2 separate regions of the Homo sapiens genome follow, and region 1 is linked to region 2. Evidence: fine-mapped expression QTL. Tissue or cell type: monocytes after LPS. Region 2 holds a variant in brackets; the other region holds the start of a gene. All regions are shown on one strand. Distances are from middle to middle.

The links. PIP is the estimated chance that this variant, and not a neighbour inherited with it, causes the effect.
Region 1: FZD7 starts here. The variant in region 2 is fine-mapped to the expression of FZD7 in monocytes after LPS (Quach 2016, PIP 0.95).

What each region holds. Positions count from the first base shown.
Region 1 is chr2:202,029,487-202,037,589 of GRCh38, forward strand. It overlaps FZD7 (frizzled class receptor 7), which reads left to right and starts at 4,369. Exons shown (of 1, transcript NM_003507.2): 1 at 4,369-8,103. The coding sequence starts at 5,162. The coding sequence ends at 6,886. RefSeq lists silencers at 3,951-4,500, 4,611-4,690 and enhancers at 5,253-6,093, 5,291-5,410.
Region 2 is chr2:201,898,682-201,906,787 of GRCh38, forward strand. No RefSeq gene overlaps it. Among named protein-coding and RNA genes, the nearest start is that of CDK15, 96 kb to the left of the region's middle. RefSeq lists an enhancer at 3,059-3,782. The variant G/A (reference allele first, on the strand shown) is at 3,243.

The DNA of each region.
Region 1 (8,103 bases), 130 kb after region 2:
CCAGCGCTCTACATTTGGACATTTTTTCCAGAACTGTTCATGGTCTTTTATTAATCAACTTCCTCCATGTTTTCTCTCCCAGGGACATGTGTTTGGAAAACTGGTTGGCCAGAGTTAGGGTTCTGTTCTGACTCTAACATCTGCAAGTGGCAACATAACCAGTCAACACTGTATTTTTATCTGTGACCCTTTCTCTGGACTCCCCAAGGACAGAGCTCCAAGAGTCGTTTCTCTCTGTTGCCTCATCTTCATAATACTCTGGAAATGAATAAATGAATAATCCTTGTAGTAAGCAGCCTCTCAAATGGCTCCCTATGATCCCCCAATGGTTTTGCACACTCTATGTATAATCCCTGCTACCCCTTGAGTGTGGGAAGATCTGGTGACTTGCTTCTAGTGAATAGTATATGGCAAAAGTGGTAGGATGTCACTTCCCAGATTAGGTTACAGAAAGACTGTGACTTCTATCTTGATCGTCATTTTTTCCTGCTCTCTCTCTCTCCCTCCTTCTTTCCCTCCCTCTCTCAGAGGGAGAGACTCTCTGAGCCTTTGCTGTGAGGGAAGCAAGGTGCCATATTACGAGTGGCCTTATGAGAGGTCCACATTGCAAGGAACTGATGTCTCTGGCCAACAGCTAGTGACAGCCTGAGGCCTGCCAACAGCCACATGAGTGAGCTTGGAAGTGGCTCCTCCAATTGAGCCTTGAGGCCATCACAGCCCTGATCAACACCCTGATTATACAATAGTCAACGTATAAAACTCTCAACTAGCCCAGTGTGGTGACGCTCACCTGTAGTCCCAGCTTTTCTGGAAGCTGAGGTAGAAGGATCACTTAAGACCAGGAGTTCGAGGCTGCAGTGAGCTATGATCACTCTACCTCACTCCAGCCTGAGTGGCAGGGTGAGATTCTGTCTCAAAAAACAAAAACAGAAACACAAAAACCCCTCTCAATCGACAAGGGAAGTGTTGGTCAGACTCAGTGACTGAATTTACCATATAAATCATCTCTACAAGATGCGGCCTGCACATCTAACATGATTATTGCATGGTCCTCCTCTTCTGCAACTTAGATATCTCTAACTTTCATAACCCTTGAAAGGGTTTTAGGGATAAGAATATCCCCATTTTTGGAATGATCCAACACCCCAACAAAAATGAACACAAGTCAATGACAACCTGACAACTGGAAATTCCAAGTTCTCCATGTTATTACGTCAAAATTGTCTAGTAAAAGAGAGGCCAGAAAGGAAAGCATGTGCTAAAATTTGCCCTTTCTAGTCTTGCATGAGTAATTCTTGCAGCAGGAGCTTCATTACAACCGCAGGACTGGGGCACACGAAGACGGCCATTTTCAAATCTGGCCTGACATCAGAATGTAATTCAACTAGATAAACCTGGGACTTGGCCAAAATAAGTAGCATTTGCAAAACTGGAGCCAATGAATAGCATCACTTTTCTGTGGGACCATATGACTACATGTGAAGAAATAAAGGCCTTTGTTATTTTAAAGGGCAGGGACAATTGGAAATTTTGCAGCAGATAGTCACAAAATTTTCCACCCTTGGCTCTCCCAAGAAGATACCAGTTAGTGGCTTTGGGAGTTGGGTGTGGAAGGGGTTGCTTAGGAAGCAAAATTAAAATGATCCTGGACAGAATATAAACAGATGTCACTACATTTGTCATAGAACCTAAAACATGATTAGACCCTTACATTGTGAACTTACTTTTTCTGATCTTCTATGACTTGGCTCCTTAAAATCATAGCATTCTATACCAGGCAAGGCTTGGAAAGCCAGAGCTCCCCCTCTCACAGCAAATTCTTATTTTGGAGAATAATTTTGGATTGATTTTTTAAAAATCTTTAAAAACAAAACAATCTGTTTTAAAAATTGGCTTTGCTTCTCTGCTTTTTGGACTTGTCTGCCTGGGACAGAGCAAGAGGACTCACATCTGTAACACTTTCCATCTGGGATGGGTTTTCTGCATCTTAGGCATAGACTGCTTTTCATTCGTCCCTTGTATTTAAGGGTTTTTTTTTTCTAAATTATTATCCCTATTGCCTAACATCGGAGCTGTCTGGGGTTATAATATGGAGAGTAGAAGCTCATCAGCTAAATTGGTTTTAGTTGCAGTTGAGACAGTATTTTATCCTGTCAGTTTTCATTTTATTTGATGACAGTGCTTGGTATTTCTTCCTCAATAAGCAAAGATGACTTAGATCAGTGGCCTGATGAATAAGCATGAAATTTTGATTTAGAAAAGGAGGATATCCTGAAGCTCATGGAGAGAAAAAAGGAATCTAACCCCCCACCACACATACTTTAAATGACAAAGCAAAGCAGCAGCATTGTCTTTAAGCAACATATTTCAACCGAAGATCAACACTCCCCGATGTTAGGTAATAGAAATAATAATTTAGAAAGAAAAGGGGGGCCCTTTTAAAAACACAAAGAAGGAATGAAACATTTTTAAAGCAGGTATCGTATTACCTTCAGCACATGTCCCAAAGAAAAGGAAAAAAAGGGTGGGGGGGTCCGGGAGGGAGGGCGAAACTGATGCTTGGGAGGAAGAAGGCGACTCCCGCTGAGGGCCGGATGGAGGATGTGATCAGTCTAACACTCTGCCTTGGCCCAAAGGCTTCCTTCCGCCCTTTCGACCTATTAACAGGAGTGGGGAAGGACAAAGAACCGTGAATCGGAAAGAACGATTCCCAGCAATCTTCAGTGATCGAAAATAAATAAAGAAAAACAGAGAAAGCCAAAGTCTCCCATGGAAGGGAACCCAATTAATTGTCTTCGATTTCAGAATGAGTTTTTTTCCTGCTGTAGAAGAAGCGCACGGGAGGCAGCAGAGACAGCAACTTCTGCCAAGGTTCAACCTGATCAGAAATCGCTCAGAGCTCCAGCACCCGGGACTGAGGCAGAAGGGCTCCGCCAGGAATAACGTTTTTTAAAGCACAGGATTGCTGTGTGTGTGTGTGTGTGTGTGTGTGTGTGAGAGAGAGAGAGAGAGAGACAGAGGAAAGAGGAGGAGGAGGAGAGATTGATTGATTGATTTTTTTCTTTTCCTTCTCAACATGTCACTTTCCTGCATGGGAATTCCTGATATTCCTGGCAGCCCGGAGAGAGGGGAGAGGCCCCCTGGTGACTTATGACCCCCGCAGGAGTAACCAGAGAGCGCGCGCGAGCGCCCAGCGCCTGGCTCAAGACGAAGATTTAACCGAGAACAAAAGAACGTTTGCCAATCAGAAAACGCTACCCGAGAACGAGGATAACCCCGCTTTGTGTTTTGAAAACTCTTTAATTAGCCTGGTTTCTAAGACGCATTAAAACATTCCTACGCAGATTCTAAATGGAGGATCAAATGGTTGCTTCTGCAACGAAGATGGGATCCCGAAAGGGCACACGCCGCAGAACCAAGGCACACGGGGCCACTGAGACGCCCGGCGCGTCGTACAGAGTGTTCCTGGGCGCTCGGTCTCAGGTTACTTCTAGAACCAGTCTCCCCAACGCCGTCTTCGTTTCCTTAAAACCTCGCTAGAGTCACCCCAGTTCCCCAGACTCCAGGCCGTGCGCGCGGGCGGGGTGGCCTGAGCCCGGGTTCCCCGCTCTCCCTGCTTCGGGCCCTTCCTCCGAGGGGTCCTTCCTCCCGCCGTCACTCGGCCCCCTCCGCCCGACTCGGGTTTCTCCTCGGAGGCGGCCCCTCCTCCTTTTTATAACTCGGGGGAGGGGAGAGGGGACTGTGGCCTCGCGTGGACTCTTTGGGTCCGGGGGGAAAGAGGCGATCCGCAAGGCGCACCCCCTTCTCGTCCCGTCCCAAACCCCACATTGAGGACCCGGCGACCCGAAAGCCCCGCCAGAGCCAGCCTTTGCAGTCCTAACGCGACTCCTGGTCACGTCTCTCCCCGAAGGGGCGCTGCGCGGTCCTCGCTCCCCTCAAACGCCGCTGGCGAAGGCGCCCCTGCTCAGGAATGCGCATCTGAGTGCACCAGGAAGAGGAACAAATCTTTGAAGCAAATTCCCTTTCTGCGCGTTTTCGTCCCTGAGCGAATTCAGGGTAAAAGTTTTTCCGAACTTTTCCCTCCCAGTCCCCCGCCCCTCCCCTCAGGAATCCGCCCAGAGCGCCGCGGACACCGCCTCCGCCACTCCCGCGCCCGCCCCTTCCGACTTCCGCCCAATCCGAAGGCGGCCACCGAAAAAACAAAGGCCGCCATTGGGCCGCCGGGGCCTGGGGCCGCCCCCGGAGTGGTTTGTGAATGGGGGGGGAGGGGAGGGGAGGGGAGGGGACGGGAGGGGACGGGAGGGGGCGGGCCGGCCCGGAACCCCGCGAGCCCGACGCTTCTTCTGGCGACCAGCGCGACTCCGAGGCGTTAGTCGGCGCTCACTCCCGGCGGGCGGCGGCGGCGGCGGCGGCGGCGGGCGCCAGGACTCGCTGCTGGGGCTGCGAGGGGCTGGAGGGGCCGGGGCCAGGCCGCGGGCACGAGCGCCTCGCGGTTTCGGACGCAGTGTGACTGGGTTTCCAAAAAGAACTCGCCGTGCTCCCGACTCCGGGGCCGAGATCGGACTCAGCAAGAGCCGGCCGTTTGGCTGAAACTTGGGGCCGAGCTTTTGGGGCTGAAGAAGGAGCGGGGTGTGGAGGAGGAGGCGAAGGAGGCGGCGACGAGCGGAGCCTCGAGGCCAGGAGGCGGGGCAGCACCGCGGAGGCGGCGGCCGGGGCGAGCGAGCGGCGGCGGCAGGGGTTCTCCTAGCGGGGACCGGACCAGGCGCGGGGGGCGTGCGCGCTGCGGTGCGCCGGGGGTCCAGAGTCTTGGGCAAACTTTGAAGGGTGCCGGAGCCGCTTGTTGCTCCTCGCGGCGGAGGGAGCCGCACCGTTACGTCCCCGCGGGGAGAGCGAGGCGGCCCTCCTCGGCGCCCCCAACCCAGGCTGACGAGTTTTGGGCCCCCGGCGGCCCTGCGAGTGCAGGGCGGCGGCGTCTGCGGCGCCTTCGCGGCGCGGGCACCCAGGCGGCAGCGCCCTTTGCTCCACGCCGCCCACGGCCCGGCCCCGGCGCCGTGAGGACTCTCATGCGTCGGGCGCGGCGGCGCCTCCCCGCATCCAAGCCTCTCCCAACCGCCTCGTCGCACTCCTCAGGCTGAGAGCACCGCTGCACTCGCGGCCGGCGATGCGGGACCCCGGCGCGGCCGCTCCGCTTTCGTCCCTGGGCCTCTGTGCCCTGGTGCTGGCGCTGCTGGGCGCACTGTCCGCGGGCGCCGGGGCGCAGCCGTACCACGGAGAGAAGGGCATCTCCGTGCCGGACCACGGCTTCTGCCAGCCCATCTCCATCCCGCTGTGCACGGACATCGCCTACAACCAGACCATCCTGCCCAACCTGCTGGGCCACACGAACCAAGAGGACGCGGGCCTCGAGGTGCACCAGTTCTACCCGCTGGTGAAGGTGCAGTGTTCTCCCGAACTCCGCTTTTTCTTATGCTCCATGTATGCGCCCGTGTGCACCGTGCTCGATCAGGCCATCCCGCCGTGTCGTTCTCTGTGCGAGCGCGCCCGCCAGGGCTGCGAGGCGCTCATGAACAAGTTCGGCTTCCAGTGGCCCGAGCGGCTGCGCTGCGAGAACTTCCCGGTGCACGGTGCGGGCGAGATCTGCGTGGGCCAGAACACGTCGGACGGCTCCGGGGGCCCAGGCGGCGGCCCCACTGCCTACCCTACCGCGCCCTACCTGCCGGACCTGCCCTTCACCGCGCTGCCCCCGGGGGCCTCAGATGGCAGGGGGCGTCCCGCCTTCCCCTTCTCATGCCCCCGTCAGCTCAAGGTGCCCCCGTACCTGGGCTACCGCTTCCTGGGTGAGCGCGATTGTGGCGCCCCGTGCGAACCGGGCCGTGCCAACGGCCTGATGTACTTTAAGGAGGAGGAGAGGCGCTTCGCCCGCCTCTGGGTGGGCGTGTGGTCCGTGCTGTGCTGCGCCTCGACGCTCTTTACCGTTCTCACCTACCTGGTGGACATGCGGCGCTTCAGCTACCCAGAGCGGCCCATCATCTTCCTGTCGGGCTGCTACTTCATGGTGGCCGTGGCGCACGTGGCCGGCTTCCTTCTAGAGGACCGCGCCGTGTGCGTGGAGCGCTTCTCGGACGATGGCTACCGCACGGTGGCGCAGGGCACCAAGAAGGAGGGCTGCACCATCCTCTTCATGGTGCTCTACTTCTTCGGCATGGCCAGCTCCATCTGGTGGGTCATTCTGTCTCTCACTTGGTTCCTGGCGGCCGGCATGAAGTGGGGCCACGAGGCCATCGAGGCCAACTCGCAGTACTTCCACCTGGCCGCGTGGGCCGTGCCCGCCGTCAAGACCATCACTATCCTGGCCATGGGCCAGGTAGACGGGGACCTGCTGAGCGGGGTGTGCTACGTTGGCCTCTCCAGTGTGGACGCGCTGCGGGGCTTCGTGCTGGCGCCTCTGTTCGTCTACCTCTTCATAGGCACGTCCTTCTTGCTGGCCGGCTTCGTGTCCCTCTTCCGTATCCGCACCATCATGAAACACGACGGCACCAAGACCGAGAAGCTGGAGAAGCTCATGGTGCGCATCGGCGTCTTCAGCGTGCTCTACACAGTGCCCGCCACCATCGTCCTGGCCTGCTACTTCTACGAGCAGGCCTTCCGCGAGCACTGGGAGCGCACCTGGCTCCTGCAGACGTGCAAGAGCTATGCCGTGCCCTGCCCGCCCGGCCACTTCCCGCCCATGAGCCCCGACTTCACCGTCTTCATGATCAAGTACCTGATGACCATGATCGTCGGCATCACCACTGGCTTCTGGATCTGGTCGGGCAAGACCCTGCAGTCGTGGCGCCGCTTCTACCACAGACTTAGCCACAGCAGCAAGGGGGAGACTGCGGTATGAGCCCCGGCCCCTCCCCACCTTTCCCACCCCAGCCCTCTTGCAAGAGGAGAGGCACGGTAGGGAAAAGAACTGCTGGGTGGGGGCCTGTTTCTGTAACTTTCTCCCCCTCTACTGAGAAGTGACCTGGAAGTGAGAAGTTCTTTGCAGATTTGGGGCGAGGGGTGATTTGGAAAAGAAGACCTGGGTGGAAAGCGGTTTGGATGAAAAGATTTCAGGCAAAGACTTGCAGGAAGATGATGATAACGGCGATGTGAATCGTCAAAGGTACGGGCCAGCTTGTGCCTAATAGAAGGTTGAGACCAGCAGAGACTGCTGTGAGTTTCTCCCGGCTCCGAGGCTGAACGGGGACTGTGAGCGATCCCCCTGCTGCAGGGCGAGTGGCCTGTCCAGACCCCTGTGAGGCCCCGGGAAAGGTACAGCCCTGTCTGCGGTGGCTGCTTTGTTGGAAAGAGGGAGGGCCTCCTGCGGTGTGCTTGTCAAGCAGTGGTCAAACCATAATCTCTTTTCACTGGGGCCAAACTGGAGCCCAGATGGGTTAATTTCCAGGGTCAGACATTACGGTCTCTCCTCCCCTGCCCCCTCCCGCCTGTTTTTCCTCCCGTACTGCTTTCAGGTCTTGTAAAATAAGCATTTGGAAGTCTTGGGAGGCCTGCCTGCTAGAATCCTAATGTGAGGATGCAAAAGAAATGATGATAACATTTTGAGATAAGGCCAAGGAGACGTGGAGTAGGTATTTTTGCTACTTTTTCATTTTCTGGGGAAGGCAGGAGGCAGAAAGACGGGTGTTTTATTTGGTCTAATACCCTGAAAAGAAGTGATGACTTGTTGCTTTTCAAAACAGGAATGCATTTTTCCCCTTGTCTTTGTTGTAAGAGACAAAAGAGGAAACAAAAGTGTCTCCCTGTGGAAAGGCATAACTGTGACGAAAGCAACTTTTATAGGCAAAGCAGCGCAAATCTGAGGTTTCCCGTTGGTTGTTAATTTGGTTGAGATAAACATTCCTTTTTAAGGAAAAGTGAAGAGCAGTGTGCTGTCACACACCGTTAAGCCAGAGGTTCTGACTTCGCTAAAGGAAATGTAAGAGGTTTTGTTGTCTGTTTTAAATAAATTTAATTCGGAACACATGATCCAACAGACTATGTTAAAATATTCAGGGAAATCTCTCCCTTCATTTACTTTTTCTTGCTATAAGCCTATATTTAGGTTTCTTTTCTATT
Region 2 (8,106 bases):
ATTCACAGTTGGGTACTTCCTTTGAGAGAGACGGTTATGAGCTCACTTCTAGACATCTTGAGTTTGAGGTACTGGTGTGCATAAGATGATTAGAACCGCCGGCCTGGGAACAGGACGTGGAGATGGCTGTGAGTGAGTGTCATCTACACACTGATGGTCCTTGAAGTCCCCAGGATGTGACTGCCCAAGAGAACATATCTGAAGAGAGGAAGCACAAGAATTGTACCTTGGGAAAGCTCAATATTAGCTTTATTTAAGCAGTATTTAGAGCTTGGAGATGGAAGAATCAACAAAGGAGACAAAGCATTAGTGGTTAGAAATTGGTGGAAAGGGGAGGTGTTGTGCGGAGAGGGGAGGGACTAGAACCATTCTGTGTGACAGAAGTTAACAAGAGCGTTCCAAGATTGAGTAGCCTGCAGAGAAAACCACCAGGAAGGTGTGAACAAAGAAAGGCCGTGGATTTGGGAGGCTACCTGTCCTTGGTAACCTACAAGGGAGCAGCTTCCATGGCATGGTGGTCATAGAAGAGCACGATGGATTAAAGAGACAGTGACAGGTAAGAAAGCAGAATGAGGGAATATCTTTCAGAAATTGTTGCATAAAAGGATAGGAAAGATGGAGGACTCACTAGAGCACGGAAGGACTGACAGGTTTCGTGTTTTGTTTGGCATAGGAGAGATTATACATTTTTATGAGCTGAAGAAAAAAGAGAGAAAGAAGTTGAAGAATCAGTAGATAATCCAAAAATACCAGGCATGATCCCTTCTCGAGTTTTTGCCTGGCTCGTGCCTCTGCCTAGAACCCCTCTTCCAAATATCCACACAGCCAACTCCCTTGCCTACTTCAAGCCTTTGTCCAAATGTCACCGGTTGGTGAAGCCTATCCTGGCCACCCTATTTAATGGGCCACTAATTTGGAAGCCTCCTGTACACCAATCCCCCTTAACCTGCCCTATTTTTCTAAAGCATCTTATCACTTGATGTCGTGCTCCATAATAGATTTACCAATTTATGATATTTATTGTTTCTCTCTCCCCCCAGCTGGAATGTAAGTTCCATGAAGATAAGAATATGTTTTATTTTATTTTATTTATACTTTTTTGAGATGTAGTTTTGCTCTTCTCACACAGGCTGGAGTGCAATGGTGTGATCTCAGCTCACTGCAACCTCCGCCTCCCAGGTTCAAGTAATTCTCCTGCCTCAGCCTCCTAAGTAGGTGGGATTACAGATGGATGCCACCATGCCCGGCTAATTTTTGTATTTTTAGTAGAGATGGGGTTTCATCATGTTGGCCAGGCTGGTCTTGAACTCCTGACCTCAGGTGATCCACCTGCCTTTGGGTGAGCCACCACCTCCGGCCTAGGAATCTGTTTTATCCACTAGCGTATCTCAAGCACCTTGAACACTGTCTTGCATGTAGCAGAGTCTCAGTAAATGTCTTTTGAATGAATGAACTCTACCATGTTTCAACTGCAACCCAGCACACTTTTTCTCCCTTGTCCTGTTCTGTTTTGGCTTTGTTTTTTCATATATGATGTACCAGTGTATTACATTTGTTATGTTTTCTATCTCCCACAGTAGAAATCAAGCCCCACAGGAAAAATGATTTTGATATGTTCTGTTACTGATATATCCCAAGCACCTAGAATTGTGCATGACACATAGTCAGTGCTTAGGAAACACTTGTGGAATAAATGAATCAGTGAAGATTCAGAGATTGAAGGAAAGGAGATTGAGAGTCTATGTTTGCCTGGGAGAGGGTAAGAGATGCATGTCCTCTGAGACTGGAGAAGAGGTAAAGTACACAGATAAAACATAATCAAACCATTGAGCAGGTGTACAGAATCAGGAGCCAGGTGGTACACAATCAGGCATTTGTTCAAATCTGTCTCTGCCACTTACTAACTGTGTGATTTGGGGGCAAGTTACCTCCCTTCTCTGCTTTCACTTCCTCCTTTGTAAGATAGGAATGATAATAGTATCTGACTCATAGAGTTGGTGGTGAGGATTAAACGAATTAATACATTTAAAATATCTTAAAGAAGCTGGGCACGGTGGCTCATGCCTGTAATCCCAGCACCTTGAGAAGCCAAAGTGGGAGGATCACTTGAGGCCAAGAGTTTGAGACTAGCCTGGACAACATAGTGAGACCTCATCTCTACAAGAAATTAAAAAATTAGCTGGGCATGGTGGCACACGCTTGTAATCCCAGCTGCTTGGCAGGCTAAGGTGGGAGGATCGCTTGAGCCCAGGAGTTCAGAGATTGCTGTGAGCTGTGGTGGTGCCACTGGACTCTAGCCTATGTGATAGAGCAAGACCCTGTCTCAAAAAAAAATAAATAAATTGGGCCGGGCGCTGTGGCTCACGCCTGTAAGCCAGCACTTTGGGAAGTCGAGGCAGGAGGATCTCCTGAGGTCGGGAGTTCGAGACCAGCCTGGCCAACATGGTGAAACTTGGTCTCTACTAAAAATACAAAAATTAGCCAGGTGTGGTGGCACACACCTGTAATCCCAGCTACTCGGGAGGCTAAGGCACAAAAATCGCTTGAACCCAGGAAGTGGAGGTTGCAGTGAGCCAACATCACACCATTGCACTCCAGCCTGGGTGACAGAGCAAGACTCCATCTCAAAAAATAATAAGTAATAAAATATTTTAAACAGTGCCTGGCATATAGTAAGCACTATAAAAATTAGGTGGTGGTGGTGATAGTAAATGAAAAAAAAGGAACAGGGGAATTAAATATGCTAATACCCATGGGGTTTGACCTGGAAGGGAAGGCAGGAGGACAATATGGAACCAACTTAGATTTAACAGTGAGTTTGGGTTTGGGGATGACGTTGGGAGGGAAAGTCGACAACACCTGATTCTGGTTCTGTTTGTGACTGTGGCTCCATTTGGTAAGCCTGGCTAGAGCTGCAGGAACCCTGGGTTTCACTAACCTCCTACTCTGAAGAACAGATTAAAAAATGAGGATCAGAATTTTAAAATATAGATATTTTTCTCTGCAGACCAATTCCAATTCCTGAAAACTTGTATGAATAAAATAATGGCACTGATTTTTTCCGCTTTGAGATCTTTTTGGTTTTTGTTTCAGTTTTGTAGGTATTTTGTAATTTTTTTATGTTTCAATGTTTAGAGAAAGATCTAGCGGATTCGAGGCAGGAAACACAAAAGGCCAGGCTAATCACACGAACAGCGCCCACTACAATGGCTGCAATGGGCCACGCATCTCTGGAAAAGACA[G/A]TTCCCCAAAAGAGTGCCTGGGGAAGGCAGATAAAAGACCGAAGTTGGGTCATGTGACAGGTGTCACTTGAGTAACGATACTGGGGCCAGAGATAAAAGCCCACTCCTTCAGGTCACATGACCCAGCTTCATTACGCTCCCAGCAGGGGGTTACAGAGTCTGGATGCCATTTTTACTTATTTATTTATTTGTGTTTTTTCCCCTTATTCTGTGATAATGAGAAAATGTTTAAACTCCCATCTCTGTGTTTAAACATTTCTTCCTGCTGACAGCAGCGGGATACCCCTTGATCAACTGTCAGATTGGAAAGTGCAATTTTTCTGGAAAGTAAACAGCATGTTAGCTGGTTGGAAATAATTTTCTGTTTATTGGTAGCTGTTACTCTAGGAGTGATGGAGCCCTGTGACAGCACTTGTCAAGTGAAGAATAAGAAACAAGTTTGGAAATACCTTTAAGACATAGCTCTGACAATAGGGCCTTACTAGTTTTTGATAGAAATGAACTCTAAAAAAGTTAAAATGGGCAAAAAAACTTTTCCAGTGTTACCAACTCTCGGAGATCTTTCCGGCAAAACTGACAGAGAATCAAAGGCAAATTCATGGAATGCTGGAAGTGGATGGGTCCTCAGCAGGCACAAAACCCAACCCCTGTGTTTTACCACTGGGGGAACCTTGGACTCTTCTCATTAATAAGAGGAAAGCAGCCGGGCGCGGTGGTGGCTCACGCCTGTAATCCCAGCACTTTGGGAGTCTGAGGCAGGCGGATCACGAGGTCAGGAGATTGAGACCATCCTGGCTAACACGGTGAAACCCTGTCTCTATTAAAAATACAAAAAAATTAGCCGGGCATGGTGGCAGGTGCCTGTAGTCCCAGCTACTCGGGAGGCTGAGGCAGGAGAATGGCATGAACCCTGGAGGCGGAGCTGGCAGTGAGCTGAGATCGCATCACTGCACTCCAACCTGGGCAACAGAACGAGACTCCCTCTCAAAAAAAAAATAATAAAATAAAATAAAAAATAAAAGTAAAATAAAATAAAAAGAAAGCATGACAACTATCAATATGACAAATAAAAGTTTTATTTTCTTTTATGTATGAAGATGAATGCAAAAAGCTGGTGGAAGCAGTTTAAACATTTTGACCTAAGTATACTTAACAAGGTTTAATGGCACATATAGATATATACAGTTGACCTTGAACAACACAGGGATTAGAGGTGCCAAGCCCCCCACCCCCTACCCCCACTCCCCACCCTGTGTGCAGTAGAAAATCCACATGTAACTTTTTTTTTTTTCTTTTGAGACAGGATCTAGCTCTGTCACACAGGCTGGAGTGCAGTGGCACAATCATAGCTCATTGCAGCCTTAACCTCCTGGGCTTAAGCCATCCTCCCACCTCAGCCTCCCAAACAGTTAGGACTACAAGCACATGCAACTACACCTGGCTAATTTTTTAAATTTTTTGCAGAGACAGAATCTTGCTGTGTTGTCCAGGCTGGTCTTGAATTCCTGGTCTCAAGTGAGCCTCCCGCCTCGGTCTCCCAAAGTGCTAGGATTTCAGGAGTCAGCCACCACACCCGGCCCACATGTAACTTTTGACTCTTCAAAAAAAACTTACCTAATAATCATCTACTGTTGACTAGAAGACTTACCAATAAGATAAACAACCAATTAACACACATTTTATGTATGTGTTTTATACTGTATTCTTACAATAAAGTAAGCTAGAGAAAAGAAAATGTTATTAAGAAAATCATAAGGAAGAGAAAATATATTTACTGTTCATTAAATGGAAGTGGATCATCATGAAGTTCTTCAACTTTCTGTCTTCATATTCAAAGGGCTGAGAAGGAAGAGGAAGGGTTGGTCTTGCTGTCTCAGGGTGGAAGGGGCAGAAGAAAATCCACTTATAAGTGGACCTATGTAGTTCAAACCCATGTTGTTCAAGGGTTAACTGTATATATATATATATATATATATATATATATATATATATATATATATATATATATATATATACAATCTTTTTTTTTCCAGTGGCTAAAAGAACACCATTAGTCTTTTGTTAATTAAACATGTCATCAGAAAAAAAAAGTGTTTTTCTTTTTCTTTTTTTTTGTTTTTTGTTTTTTTGAGATGGTCTCCTCTGTCACCCAGGCTGGAGTGCAGAGGCACAATAATGGCTTACTGCAGCCTCAACCTCCCTAGTAGCTGGGACTACAGGCTCAAGCCACCATACTCAGCTAATTTTTTTTTTTTAAATAGAGATGCGGTTTCACCACGTTGCCCAGGCTGGTCTCGAACTTCTGGGCTCAAGCAATCTGCCCGCCTCAGCCTCCCAAAGTAGTGGGATTACAGGCATGAGCCACCACACACAGTCAAAGGTTTCTAATTATAAGTAATATATATTCTCAAGCTATATAAAGGTCCATATCTATCTTCAATTAGGGTAAGTTTAAGGTCCTAATTTGTCCCGGAATTCGCCTCACTTTTTCCTGATGGTTAGAAAAGTAATTCCAGCTGCTTGACGAGGTGCTTTCACCTAGATGTTTCTAACAAATATGTCAAATTCTGCATGTCCAAACTTCTCCCTACATCAAAAACAAAGCAAAAAAGGTCTTCTCCATTCTCGTTTTGGTTAACAGCATCACCATCCTCCCAATTGCCTGATTCCCCTCTCCCTGCCTCCTAAATACCTTTCAGTACATTTTCTTCTATAGCCAGTGCCAGGCTATGTGGTTCTCAAAGTGAGGTCCCTGTACCAGCAACATCAGCATCCCCTGGGAAGTGGTTAGAAATGCAAATTCTCGGGGCTTACCTCAGACCTACTGAATCTGGAACTGAGTGGGGTGGAGCCTGGTAAATCTGCATTCACTAAAGTGAGAACACTGTCCTGGCTGTATTCTGCAGGTCTTGCCCTGTAGTCTCCTAACTGGCCTTCCAGCCACCAATTTTTTCTCTGGAGTATTCCCCATACCAGTAGTTCTCAACCTTGGCTGCACATTGGAATAATCTTGAAAATACTGATGCCTGGGTCCCTGTTTAATTGCTCTGGTCTGCAACATAGGCACAGGACTTTTTTAAGCTCCCCATATTATTCTAATGTGTAGCCAGGGCTGATAATCACTGCTCCACCCGGAAGCCAGTGTTCTCTTGCTAAAAAACAAATCAGATGATGTCACTATCCCCCCTAAAAAAATCTCTATCAGTCATAGGATAAATTCTGAACCAGCTCTTCAGCATGGCCCCAACTGAGTACTCCAGCTGGCTCCATCAGCCTCCAGGCTCACTCGCTTCCTCTACACTCAGCCACGTGGAATTTCTCAGTATTCCCTGAATGCAGTATTCTGTTCACATCCCTAGCTTTTTGCACTTTCTGTCCCCTCTGCTTAGAATGCCCTCTTCCATCCTCTCTGCCTGGTGAACTCTTATCCCTCAATGCTCAGCTGAAAGGTCCTCCAGCCCAGGGTGAGTTGCTCTCTTCTCTGGGATCCCAGAGCACTCTGTTGCTATGTACATCATAGTATTGGTCCCATTTCATTGCAATTATTAGTTGACACTTCTTTCTTCTTCTTCTTCTTCTTTTTTTTTTTTTTTTGAGATGGAGTTTCACTCTTGTTGCCCAGGCTGGAGTGCAATGGCATGATCTCAGCTCACTGCAACCTCTGCCTCCCGGGTTCAAGTGATTCCCCTGCCTCAGCCTCCCGAGTAGCTGAGATTACAGGCATGTGCCTCCATGCCAGGCTAATTTTGTATTTTTAGTAGAGACAGGGTTTCTCCATGTTGGTCAGGCTGGTCTTGAACTCCCAACCTCAGGTGATCCGCCCGCCCCGGCCTCCCAAAGTGCTGGGATTACAGGCATGAGCCACCACATCCAGCCTTCTTTATCCTTTTTAAAAACTGACAGCGTTAGGAGATTAGAAGAATGCTTAGCTTTTTAATTTTATCCCCAGTGTCTAGTGTAAGTTGGACATTGAGAAGATGTTCAATCAATGTTGGTTAAGCGAATGAATTGGAAACACCACCACTTGCTGCCTTCCACTGAGATCAAATCATGGTGCCATTTTGCTTTTCTTTCCAGAATCAGTAAAGATCATATATCTCATATCATACACATATGACTTAGTAATCACATACCACAAACACGTGATTAGGAGCCAACCAGATCAAGTCTGTCACTTGCTGACCTTGGTTTTCTAATCTTTAAAATAAGGTCAATAATGCCTATTTTGTAGAGTGAGTGTGAAGATTCATTGTATAACACCCAGCAGCATGCCTGACACAGACTAGGCACTAAATAAATTAAAATGTTTATTATAATAATAAGTAAATAAAACTCACTGAAAAGAAAGTTAAACTGAGCAGCACTTCTGTTTATACATCTGTTTCTCTCTTCAGTGTGAGCTGCTGAAAGGCAAAAGCTGTCTTATTTATCCGTGTGTTCCCTGGGGCGGGGAACACAGTAGGCATTCATTAATTAATTCGGTCGCTCATTCACCAAGCATTTATTAAGCTAATGAATGAAATGAATAATATTTGGGTTAGAATGATGGCTTGCTGTTTGGGGCACAGAGAGACTCACACATTTGTCTGTCTTACAAAACAGAGAATCACAAGTTTGGCCACTGGAAGGTGTCTCAGAAATCATTTTTAAAGGTTCTCATTTACAGGTGAGAAAAGGGAGATAACTAACCAGGAAAGCCATTTTAATTTCAATATTGAGGATAACATTTCTAGGTTGGGAGTGGATGCTGACCAAGTAGGAAAGCAAGTTCACATTTGTAAAAGTTCTTGGGTGGGTGATACTTAACTAGGACAGTGCTTGGTTTTTCATGGTGAGAAACTGGGCAGTTGAGAAGAATTTTAAC